3 linked regions of the Homo sapiens genome follow. The protein of the gene in region 2 interacts with the protein of the main gene of each other region in a pairwise test. Each region holds a gene or a part of one and is shown on either strand. Other genes may lie near its edges. The genes, in order: NBPF19, DAGLB and PISD.

Evidence for each region.
Region 1: the proteins of DAGLB (region 2) and NBPF19 interact in a two-hybrid assay, tested with the Homo sapiens proteins (one large-scale study listed by BioGRID).
Region 3: the proteins of DAGLB (region 2) and PISD interact in a two-hybrid assay, tested with the Homo sapiens proteins (one large-scale study listed by BioGRID and IntAct).

What each region holds. Positions count from the first base shown.
Region 1 is NC_000001.11:149,481,467-149,485,119, reverse strand, and holds part of NBPF19 (NBPF family member NBPF19), read right to left. Parts: intron 2,946-3,653; coding exon 2,894-2,945; intron 1-2,893.
Region 2 is NC_000007.14:6,427,366-6,431,018, reverse strand, and holds part of DAGLB (diacylglycerol lipase-beta), read left to right. Parts: intron 1-411; coding exon 412-539; intron 540-3,653.
Region 3 is NC_000022.11:31,655,584-31,659,236, forward strand, and holds part of PISD (phosphatidylserine decarboxylase proenzyme, mitochondrial), read right to left. Parts: intron 1-3,653. UniProt on the Homo sapiens protein: Catalyzes the formation of phosphatidylethanolamine (PtdEtn) from phosphatidylserine (PtdSer). Plays a central role in phospholipid metabolism and in the interorganelle trafficking of phosphatidylserine.

The sequences.
Region 1 (3,653 bases), on a different chromosome or scaffold from region 2:
ACCTTAAATGAGCTGATGGAGCTGAAAACCATGGCACGAGAACTACGTGATGCATGCACAAGCTTCAGTAGCCAATTCGATCAAGTGCAAGAAACGGTATCAGTGATTCAAGATCAAATTAGTGAAATGAAGCGAGAAGAGAAGTTTAGAGAAAAAAGAGTAAAAAGAAATGAACAAGCCTCCAATAAATATGGGACTATGTGGAAAGACCAAATCTACGTTTGATTGGTGTACTGAAAGTGACGGGGAGAATGGAACCAAGCTGGGAAACATTCTTCAGGATATTATCCAGGAGGACTTCCCCAACCTAGCAAGGAAGGCCAACATTCAAATTCAGGAAACACAGAGAACACCATAAAGATACTCCTCGAGAAGAGCAACCCCAAAACACGTAATTGTCAGATTCACCAAGGTTGAAATGAAGGAAAAAATGCTAAGGGCAGCCAGAGAGAAAGGTTGGATTACCCACAAAGGGAAACCCATCAGACTAGCAGCAGATCTCTTGGCACAAACCCTACAAGCCAGAAGAGAGTGGGAGCAATATTCAACATTCTTTTTTTTTTCCATATGTATAGTTTTCCTTTATTATTTTTTGTGTGTATGTATATATATATATATTTTTTTTAATACTTTAAGTCTTAGGGTACATGTGCACAACGTGCAGGTTAGTTACATATGTATACATGTCCACATTGGCGTGCTTCACCCATTAACTCATCATTTAGCATTAGGTATATCTCCTAATGCTACCCCTCCTCCCTCCCCCCACCCTACAACAGGCCCCAGTGTGTGATGTTCCCCTTTCTGTGTCCATGTGTTCTCATTGTTCAATTCCCACCTGTGAGTAAGAACATGCGGTATTTGGTTTTTTGTCCTTGCAATAGTTTGCTGAGAATGATGGTTTCCAGCTTCATCCATGCCCCTACAAAGGACATGAACTCATCATTTTTTATAGCTGCATAGTATTCCATGGTGTATATGTGCCACATTTTCTTAATCCAGTCTATCATTGCTGGATATTTGGCTTGGTTCCAAGTCTTTGCTATTGTGAATAGTGCCGCAATAAACATATGTGTGCATGTGTCTTTACAGCAGCATGATTTATAATCCTTTGGGTATACACCCAGTAATGGGATGGCTGGGTCAAATGGTATTTCTAGTTCTAGATCCCTGAGGAATTGCCACACTGCCTTCCACAATCGTTGAACTAGTTTACAGTCCCACCAACAGTGTAAAAGTGTTCCTATTTCTCCACATCCTCTCCAGCACCTTCAACATTCTTAAAGAAAAGAATTTTCAACCAAGAATTTCATATCCAGCCAAACAAAGCTTCATAAGTGAAGGAGAAATAAATCCTTTACAGAGAAGCAAATGCTGAGAGATTTTGTCACCACCAGGCCTGCCTTACAAGAGCTCCTAAAGGAAGCACTAAACATGGAAAGGAACAACCGGTACCAGCCACTGCAAAAACATGCCAAACTGTAAAGACCATTGACGCTAGGAAGAAACTGCATCAACTAACGGAAGAAATAACCAGCTAACATCATAACGACAGGATCAAATTCACACATAACAATATTAACCTTAAATGTAAATGGGCTAAATGCCCCAGTTAAAAAACACAGAATGGCAAATTGGATAAAGAGTCAAGACCCATCAGTGTGCTGTACTCAGGAAACCCATCTCACATGCAGAGACACACATAGGCTCAAAATAAAGGGATGGAGGAAGATCTACCAAGCAAATGGAAAACAAAAAAAGGCAGGTGTTGCAATCCTAGTCTCTGATAAAACAGACTTTAAACCAACAAAGATCAAAAGAGACAAAGAAGGCCACTACATAATGGTAAAGGGATCAATTCAACAAGAAGAGTTAACTATCCTAAATATATATGCACCCTATACAGGAGCACCCAGATTCATAAAGCAAGTCCTGAGAGACCTACAAAGAGATTTAGACTCCACACAATCATCATGGGAGACTTTAACACCCCACTGTCAATATTAGACAGATCAATGAGACAGAAGCTTAACAAGGATATCCAGGACTTGAACTCAGCTCTCCACCAAGCCGACCTAAAAGACATCTACAGAACTCTCCACCCCAAATCAACAGAATATACATTCTTCTCAGCACCACATCACACTTATTCCAAAATTGACCACATAGTTGGAGGTAAAGCACTCGTCAGCAAATGTAAAAGAATGGAAATCACAACAAACTGTCAGACCACAGTGCAATCAAATTAGAACTCAGGATTAAGAAACTCACTCAAAACCACACAACTACATGGAAACTGAACAACCTGCTCCTGAATGACTACTGGGAAAATAACAAAATGAAGGCAGAAATAAAGATGTTCTTTGAAACCAATGAGAACAAAGACACAACATACCAGAATCTCTGGGACACATTTAAAGCAATGTGTAGAGGGAAAATTATAGCACTAAATGCCCACAAGAGAAAGCAGAAAAGATCTAAAATGGACACCCTAACATCACAATTAAAATAACTAGAGAAGCAAAGCAAACAAATTCAAAAGCTAGCAGAAGACAAGAAGTAACTAAGATCAGAGCAGAACTCAAGGAGATAGAGACACAAAAAACCCTTCAAAAAATCAATGAATCCAGGGCTGGTTTTTTGAAAAGATCAACAAGAAAACCCTGTTTGGCTAGTTCACCTGGCTCATCTGATGGCAAGTTCCTATCTTGAGAGGACTATGAAATTAAAACCAATACAAGTGCCACAAATAACATACAACATTGTAAATCAGCACAATTTGTAGCTGGGTGAATGGAAGAAATAGTTCTATTCATCACTTCCTCATTTTCCCTAAATCTACAATCTCCAGATGTCACTACTGAATTAACAGCCAACAATTCCACAACATTACCTGGGAGACACTGGCCCTTTTTCTTCCTCTTCCTCATCATCACTTTCATTTTCTGTAAATAAATTCAGAGAAGCAGGTCACATTAAGCAATTCATACTTCACATATGAACAAATCACTGTCCAGTCATAGCACAAGGACATAACTATTCTCAGTGCAAGAATAAGGATTCTGACAGGAATATTCTAGGGTGTCCTAGATTAACTTTGGTGAGAATTAGATGACCCTGCTTTCCAGACCCACAGGCCAAAATCTCCCTCTACGTGTAGACCATAATGCCATATTCCCTGCCTGAGTCAAAGTTAAACAAAATTTTTTCCCCAAAAAAATCTCCAAAAATTGGTCAAACAATTTTCTAAGAGTGTTGCTGCGATACGGACTTATATCACCAGGTAACATGGACATTAAATGTTTAGAGGCATCTATACATGAAACACGACTGATAGATAAATTTTAACAACTCTTGCTTTAAAAAGAATCTGTGATTTGGGAGGCCAAGACAGGTGAATCATTTGAGGTCATGAGTTCAGGACTACCCTGGCCAATATGGGGAAACCCTGTCTCTACTAAAAATACAAAAATTAGCCAGATGTGATGTTGTGCACCTGTGGTCCCAGCAACTCAGGAGGCTGAGGCAGGAGAATCACTTGAATCTGGGAGGCAGAGGTTGCACCAAGCCAAGATGGTGCCACTGCACTCCAGCCTGGGTGACAGAGCAAGACTCCATTGCAAAAAAAAAAAAAAAAAAAAAAAAATCCACGA
Region 2 (3,653 bases):
TGATCACCTGAGGTCGGGAGTTCGAGACCAGCCTGGCCAACATGGTGAAACCCCGTCTCTACTAAAAATACAAAAATTAGCCGGGTGTGGTGGCGGGTGCCTGTAGTCTCAACGACTTGAGAGGCTGAGGCAGGGGAATTGCTTGAACCTGGGAGGCGGAGGTAGCAGTGAGCTGACATTGTGCCACTGCACTCCAGCCTGGTGACAGAGCGAGACTCTAAAAAAAAAAAAAAATGAGGAGTCCATGTCATCCTTATTGAAGGAGCAGTTTTGCCTGTGGGCGTCTGAGAGTTCTATTCAACGAAGGAGCAGGAAGAGTCAGGAATGAGTTCAGGTTTCAGGTCTCAGTGTGTTGATCCTCTGTGTCAGGAGTTCCCTTAATAAACAGTAGTTTTTGTCCTTCTCTTGTAGGAAGCTGATCTGGATGCAGAATTAGAAAACTGCCATCATTACATGCAGTTTGCAGCAGCGGCCTATGGGTGGCCCCTCTACATCTACAGAAACCCCCTCACGGGGCTGTGCAGGATTGGTGGTGACTGGTGGGTTGGCACAGTCTGAGCCTCCATAGCCATATTTCCCTTAAAAAAAAAAGCTATTTTGAGATATTTCAAAAATTTGAAAGAACAGTGCAAAGAACTCCCATGAATCCTTTACCTAGAGTCACCAGCTGTGACTCATCTGGTCACATGCGCTGTATCTCTCTCTCTCTCTCTCTCCCTCCCTCCCTCCCCCCTGCATATATATATATATATATATATATATATATATGCACATGTATTTTTTTTCCCCGAACCATTTTATTTTTCTCTTTTTGAGACAGAGTTTCACCCTTGCTGCCCAGGCTGGAGTGCAGTGGCGTGATCTCAGCTCACCACAACCTCCGTCTCCCAGGCTCAAGCGGTGCTACTGGCTCAGCCTCCTGAGTAGTTGGAATTACAGGTGCCCGCCACCATGCCCGGCTAATTTTCATTTTTTGAGATGGAGTTTCACTCTGTTGCCCAGGCTGGAGTGCAGTGGCACAATCTCGGCTCACTGCAAGCTCCGCCTCCCTGGTTCACGCCATTCTCCTGCCTCAGCCTCCCGAGTAACTGGGACTACAGGCGCCCGCCACCACTGCTGGCTAATTTTTTGTATTTTTAGTAGAGATGGGGTTTCACCGTGTTAGCCAGGATGGTCTCGATCTCCTGACCTCGTGATCCGTCTGCCTCGGCCTCCCAAAGTGCTGGGATTACAAACATGAGCCACCACGCCCGGCCACACCCGGCTAATTTTCTATTTTTAGTAGAGACGGGGTTTCACTATGTTGGCCAGGCTGGTCTGGAACTCCTGACCTTGTGGTTCACCTGCCTCACCCTCCCAAAGTACTGAGATTACAGGCGTCAGCCACCAGGCCCGGTCTCAGGTAATTTTTGTATGTTTAGTAGAGACAGGATTTCCCCATGTTGACCGGGCTGGTCTCAAACTCCTGACCTCAAGTGATCTGCCTGCCTCAGCCTCCCAGAGTTCTGGGATTACAAGGTGTGAGCCACTGTGCCCAGCCCCAGTAATACCCTTTTTAGCAATTTTTTTCTCCAATCCAGGATGATGCGTTACATCTAGTTGCTGTGTCTCTTTGGTCTCCTTCAAGTTTTAAGTTTCTCAGCCGTTCTTTCCTTTCATGATATTGACATTTTGAAGAGGACAGTGCAGATATTTTGTAGAAGGGCCTTCAATTTGCATTTGTGTGATGGTTTCCCCATGATTAGATTTATGTTTTGCATTTTTGGCGGGAATGGTCCATGACAACCATCCTTCCTAGTGTATCATATCAGGGGATACATGATGCCAGTTTGTCCCATTTCTGGTTATATTAACATTGATTGCTTGGCTGAGGTGGTGACTGCCAGCCTTGAGACCATTTAAATATCTTGTCCCAGGCCGGGCGTGGTGGCTCAGACCTGTAATCCCAGCATTTTGGGAGGTCGAGGCCAGCGGATCACTTGAGCTCAGGAGTTTGAGACCAGCCTGGGCAACCTGGCAAAACTCCATCTCACTAAAAATATAAAAATTAGCTGGGTGTAACAGTGTGTACCTGTAGTCCCAGGTGCTTGGGAGGCTGAGGCAGGAGAAACACTTGAGCCCAGGAGGCTGAGGTTGCAGTGAGCTGGGGTTGCACCACTGTACTCCAGCCTGAGTGACAGAGCAAGACGCTGTCTTAAAAAATAAATTAAATAAATATATATGTCTATATCCCACCAGGTGCAGTGGCTCATGCCTATAATCCCAGCACTTTGGGAGGCCAAGGCGGGCTGATCACCTGAGGTCAGGAGTTCAAGACCATCCTGACCAACACGGTGACACCCCGTCTCTACTAAAAATACAGAAATTAGCTGGACATGGTTGCACACACCTGTAATCACAGCTACTCGGGAGGTTGAGGCAGGAGAATCGCTTGAACCAGGGAGTTGGAGGTTGCAGTGAGTGGAGATCACACCATTGCCCTGCAGCCTAAGCAACAGAGCAAGATTCTGTCTCAAAAAGAAAAAAAAAAAAGAAACCAAAACAAAACAAAAAACAAGTAAGTAAATGTCCTATCCCTCTCTGAATTCTCATCTGGCAGTACAGCATCCATTGATTCTTGTCTGAATCACTTATTACCAGGATGGTGGCAAAATCATGATTTTTCTTTTTCTTTCTTTCTTTCTTTTTTTTTTTTTTTTTTTTGAGACAGAGTCTCAGGATCCTGGCTCACTGCAACCTCCATCTCCCAGGTTCAAGTGATTCTCCTGCCTCAGCCTCCCGAGTAGCTGGGATTACAGGCCTGCACCACCATACTCGGCTAGTTTTTTGTAATTTTAATAGAGACAGGTTTTCGCTGTGTTGGCCAGGCTGGTCGAACTCCTGACCTCAGGTGATCCACTCGCCTTGGCCTCCCAAAGTGGTTGGATTACAGGCATGAGCCACCGCACCTGGCCAAAATTGTGATTTTTCTAAATTCATCATTTCTTCTACATTAATTGTCATTCTCCTATAAAAAAGAGCTTTTTATCCCTACATCTTACTGTCAATATGGATTTATAGATTCTTAAATTATTCAGTGGGTTGTAATTATGACTGTTTATTTTGTATTAAGTACAGTGTTTATTTGATGCTCAAAATGTTCCAGATTTTGTCCTGCAGACTGGCTCCAGTGTTCTTTTCATATGACCCCATCATGTTCTGAGCACTTCCTAACCTCTGGATTTTGCTTTTTCTTTTTTTGGGACTGTTGCCCAGGCTAGAGTATAGTGGTATCATCACGGCTTACTGTAACACCATACCCTCAACCTCCTGGGCTCAAGTGATTCACCTGCCTCGGTCTCCCAAAGTCCTGGGATTACAGGTGTAAGCCACCACGCCTATGTATTTATTTTAAAGATCATGAGATTTTACTAATATCTTTTTTTTGTTTGTCTTTTAAGAGACGGGGTTCTCTCACCTCAGCCTCCCAAGTAGCTGGGACTACAGGCATGCACTGCCAGACCCAGATAATTTTTAAAAATGTTTTAAATTAATAAATTTCTTTTTAGAGACAGTTTTGCTTTGTGGCCCAGGCTGGTCTCCAACACTTGAGCGATCCTCCCGCCTCAGCCTCCCAAAGTGCTGGCATCATGGGTGTCAGTCTCCTGGCCCTG
Region 3 (3,653 bases), on a different chromosome or scaffold from region 2:
TCTGGGATTACAGGCATGAGCCACTGCACCAGGCCAGGACTCGTTTTTGTTTTGTTTTGTTTTGTTTTTGAGATGCAGTCTCGCTCCGTCACCCAGGCTGGAGTTCAGTGGCGTGATCTCAACTCACTGCAACCTCCGCCTCCTGGGTTCAAGCAGTTCTTCTGCCTCAGCCTCCCAAGTAGCTGGGATTACAGGCACAAGCCACCACACCCAGCTAATTTTTGTGTTTTTTTAGTAGAGACAGGGTTTCGCCATGTTGGCCAGGCTGGGCTCGAACTCCTGACCTCAAGTGATCCACCCACCTTGGCCTCCGAAAGTGTTGGGATTACAGGCATGAGCCACTGCACCCAGCCCAGGACTCATTTTTAAGTCCTTTCTTTCTCATCATCCACATTCAATCCACTGGCAAGGCAATGAAAACTACCACTGGCCAGGCTCAGTGGCTCACGCCTGTAATCTCAGCACTTTGAGAGGCTGAGGCAGGTGGATCACCTGAGGTCGGGAGTTTGAGACCAGCCTCGCCAATATGGTAAAACCCCGTCTCCACTAAAAATACAAAAAACTAGCCAGCCAATATGGTGAAACCCCGTCTCTACTAAAAATACAAAAAATTAGACGGGTGTGATGGTGGTGGCCTATAATCCCAGCTACTTGGGAGACTGAGGCAGGAGAATTGCTTGAACCCAGGAGGTGGAGGTTGCAATGAGCCAAGATCACACCACTGCACTCCAGCCTGGGCATGACAGAGCGAGACTCTGTCTGAAAAAAACAAAAAAATAAAGGCCGGGCATGGTGGCTGACGCCTATGAGAACTCCCAGCACGTTGGAAGGCCAAGGTGGGCAGATCACGAGGTCAGGAGTTCGAGACCGGCCTGACCAACATGGTGAAACTCCATCTCTACTAAAAATACAAAAATTAGCCAGGTGTGGTGGTCGGTGCCTATAGTCCCAGCTACTCAGGACGCTGAGGCAGAAGAATTGCTTGAATCTGGGAGACGGAGGTTGCAGGGAGCCGAGATCGCACACTGCACTCCAGCCTGGGTGACAGAGCAAGACTGCGTCTCAAAAATAAATAAATAAATAAATAAATAAATAAATAAACAAAACAGAAAGACAAGATCCCACATCTTGTCAGCCTCTCAGATCTCTAGCTACTTTCCCTCTCTTCCTCCTCACTCACTCCTCTTGCCGCTCCTTGTCCACACCACATGTGCCCCTTTCCACACTCCTCCATTTGCTGTTTGCTATGCTGGGCACACCCCTCTCCTATGTGGCTCACTCCCACATCATTTAGTTCTCTGCTCAAATGTTACCTCCTCAGTGCAGTTTTTCCTGAGCACTGTATGCCCAAGAGTTGGCCCTCTTGAACACTAACTTCTTAATTTTTAAAAAAAATTTTTCTGGGTATGTAGTAGGCATATATATCTATGTGTTACATGAGCTAGTTTGATACAGGCACGCAATATGGAATAATCACATTAGGTAAATGGGATATCTATCCCCTCAAGCATTTAAGCTTTGTGTTACAAACAATCCAGTTATACTCTTTTAGTGTTTTGTTTTGTTTTTTTGAGATGGAGTTTTGCTCTGTCGCCCAGGCTGGAGTGCAGTGGCATGATCTCAGCTCACCGCAACCTCCGCCTCCTGGGTTCAAGCAATTCTCTGCCTCAGCCTCCCGAGTAGCTGGGATTACAGGCACCCACCACCATGCCTGGCTAATTTTTTGTATTTTTAGTAGAGATGGGGTTTCACCTTCTTGGCCAGACTGATCTTGAACTCCTGACCTCGTGATCCACCCGCCTCAGCCTCCCAAAGTGCTGGGATTACAGGCGTGAGCCACCGCACCCAGCCTTTTAGTTATTTTTAAATGTAATAATTTTAAATTATTTTTGACAATAGTCACCCTGTTGTGCTAGCAAACACTAGGTCTTATTCATTTTATTTTATATATTTTTTTGAGATGGCATCTTGCTCTGTTGCCCAGGCTGGAGTGCAATGGCGCAATCTCAGCTCACTGCAACCTCTGACTCCCAGGTTCAAGGAATTCTCCTACCTCAGCCTCCTGAGTAGCTGGGATTACAGGAGCACACCACCACACCCGGCTAATTTTTTTTTGTAGTTTTAGTAGTGACAGGGTTTGTTGGCCACGCTGGTGTTGAACTCCTGACCTCAGGTGATCCACCCGCCTGGGCCTCCAAAGTGCTGGGATTACAGGCGTGAGCCACTGCACCCAGCCCATTTTATTTTTTTGATACCCATTAACCATCCCCATTTCTTCCCATCCCCCCACTACCCTTTCCAGCTTCTGGTAACCATCCTTCTACTATCTCCATGAGTTCAACCGTTTTAATTTACAGCTCCCACAAATAAGTGAGAACATGCAAAGTTTGTCTTTCTGTTGAGCACTAACTTCTTAATTATCTTGCTTTCTTTTTCTTCATGGCATTTCTTATTACACAAAATGAATGGATTCTGCATGTATTCAGTTATTTGTTTACTGTATGTATACCTCGATGAACACGGGGTTTATCTGTGTTCTCACTGGCCTTCAATCTCAATAGTGACAGTATGCCCCAGAAAGATGAATGGATGGGTTCAAACAGATGTCTCTTCTACATGCATTCTACATCGCATCCTTCAAGTAGGCAATTAAAGCCCACAATTGAGCACTCCAGTCTGCCTGTGCAACTCAAATCTCAGCGCTGCCACTTCTTAGCAGCTGTGTGACCTTAGGAAATTTCTTAACTAATCTTAAGCCTCAGTTTCTCCACCTGCAAAAACAAAACTCACCTCATTAGAAGACAATCATGCAAAACCTTAGCTCAGGGCCTGGCACCTAGTTAGACTGTTATTATTAAGAGTTGATATTCAGCTGACATACACTGAGATGGTCATATCAATCATCTATGACCAGCATTCACTCTCACTAGTCTGTCTCCATGGCATCCTGGTTATAAGTTTGTTTGTTTGTTTGTTTGTTTTTTGAGACAGGGTCTCACTCTGTCACCCAGGCTGGAATGCAGTGGTGAAATCACAGCTCACTGCAGCCTCGACCTCCTGGGCACAAGTGAACCTCCCACCTTAGCTTCCCAAGTAGCTGGGACCACAGATGTGCACCCAGCCATTTTTTGCGGAGAGGAGGTCTCACTATGTTGCTCAGGTTGGTCTCGAACTCTTGGGCTCAAGCAATTCTCCTGCCTCAGCCTCCCAAAGTGTTGAGATTACAGACATAAGCCACCACACCTGGCCAGTTGCACTATTTTTTCTTTTTCTTTTTTTTTTTTTTTTGAGACAGGGTCTCACTCTGTTGCCCAGGCTGGAGTGCAGTGGCATGATCTTGGCTCACTGCAGCCTCAACCTCCTGGGCTCAGGCAATCCTCCTACCTCAGCCTCCCAGGTGGCTGGGACTACATGTATGCACCACTATGACCAGCTAATTTTTGTGTTTTTTGTACAGATGGGTTTTTGCCATGTTGCCCAGGCTGGTCTTGAACTCCTGAGCTCATGCAATCCACCCGCCTTAGCCTCCCAAAATGCTGGGATTACAGGCATGAGACACCACGCCCAGGCCTAAGACATTTTTAACATCACCCCTAGTAGTAACATTTTGCCTATAGTCCTTATGTCTCCCTTGCTTTCTAAAGCTGTGAAAG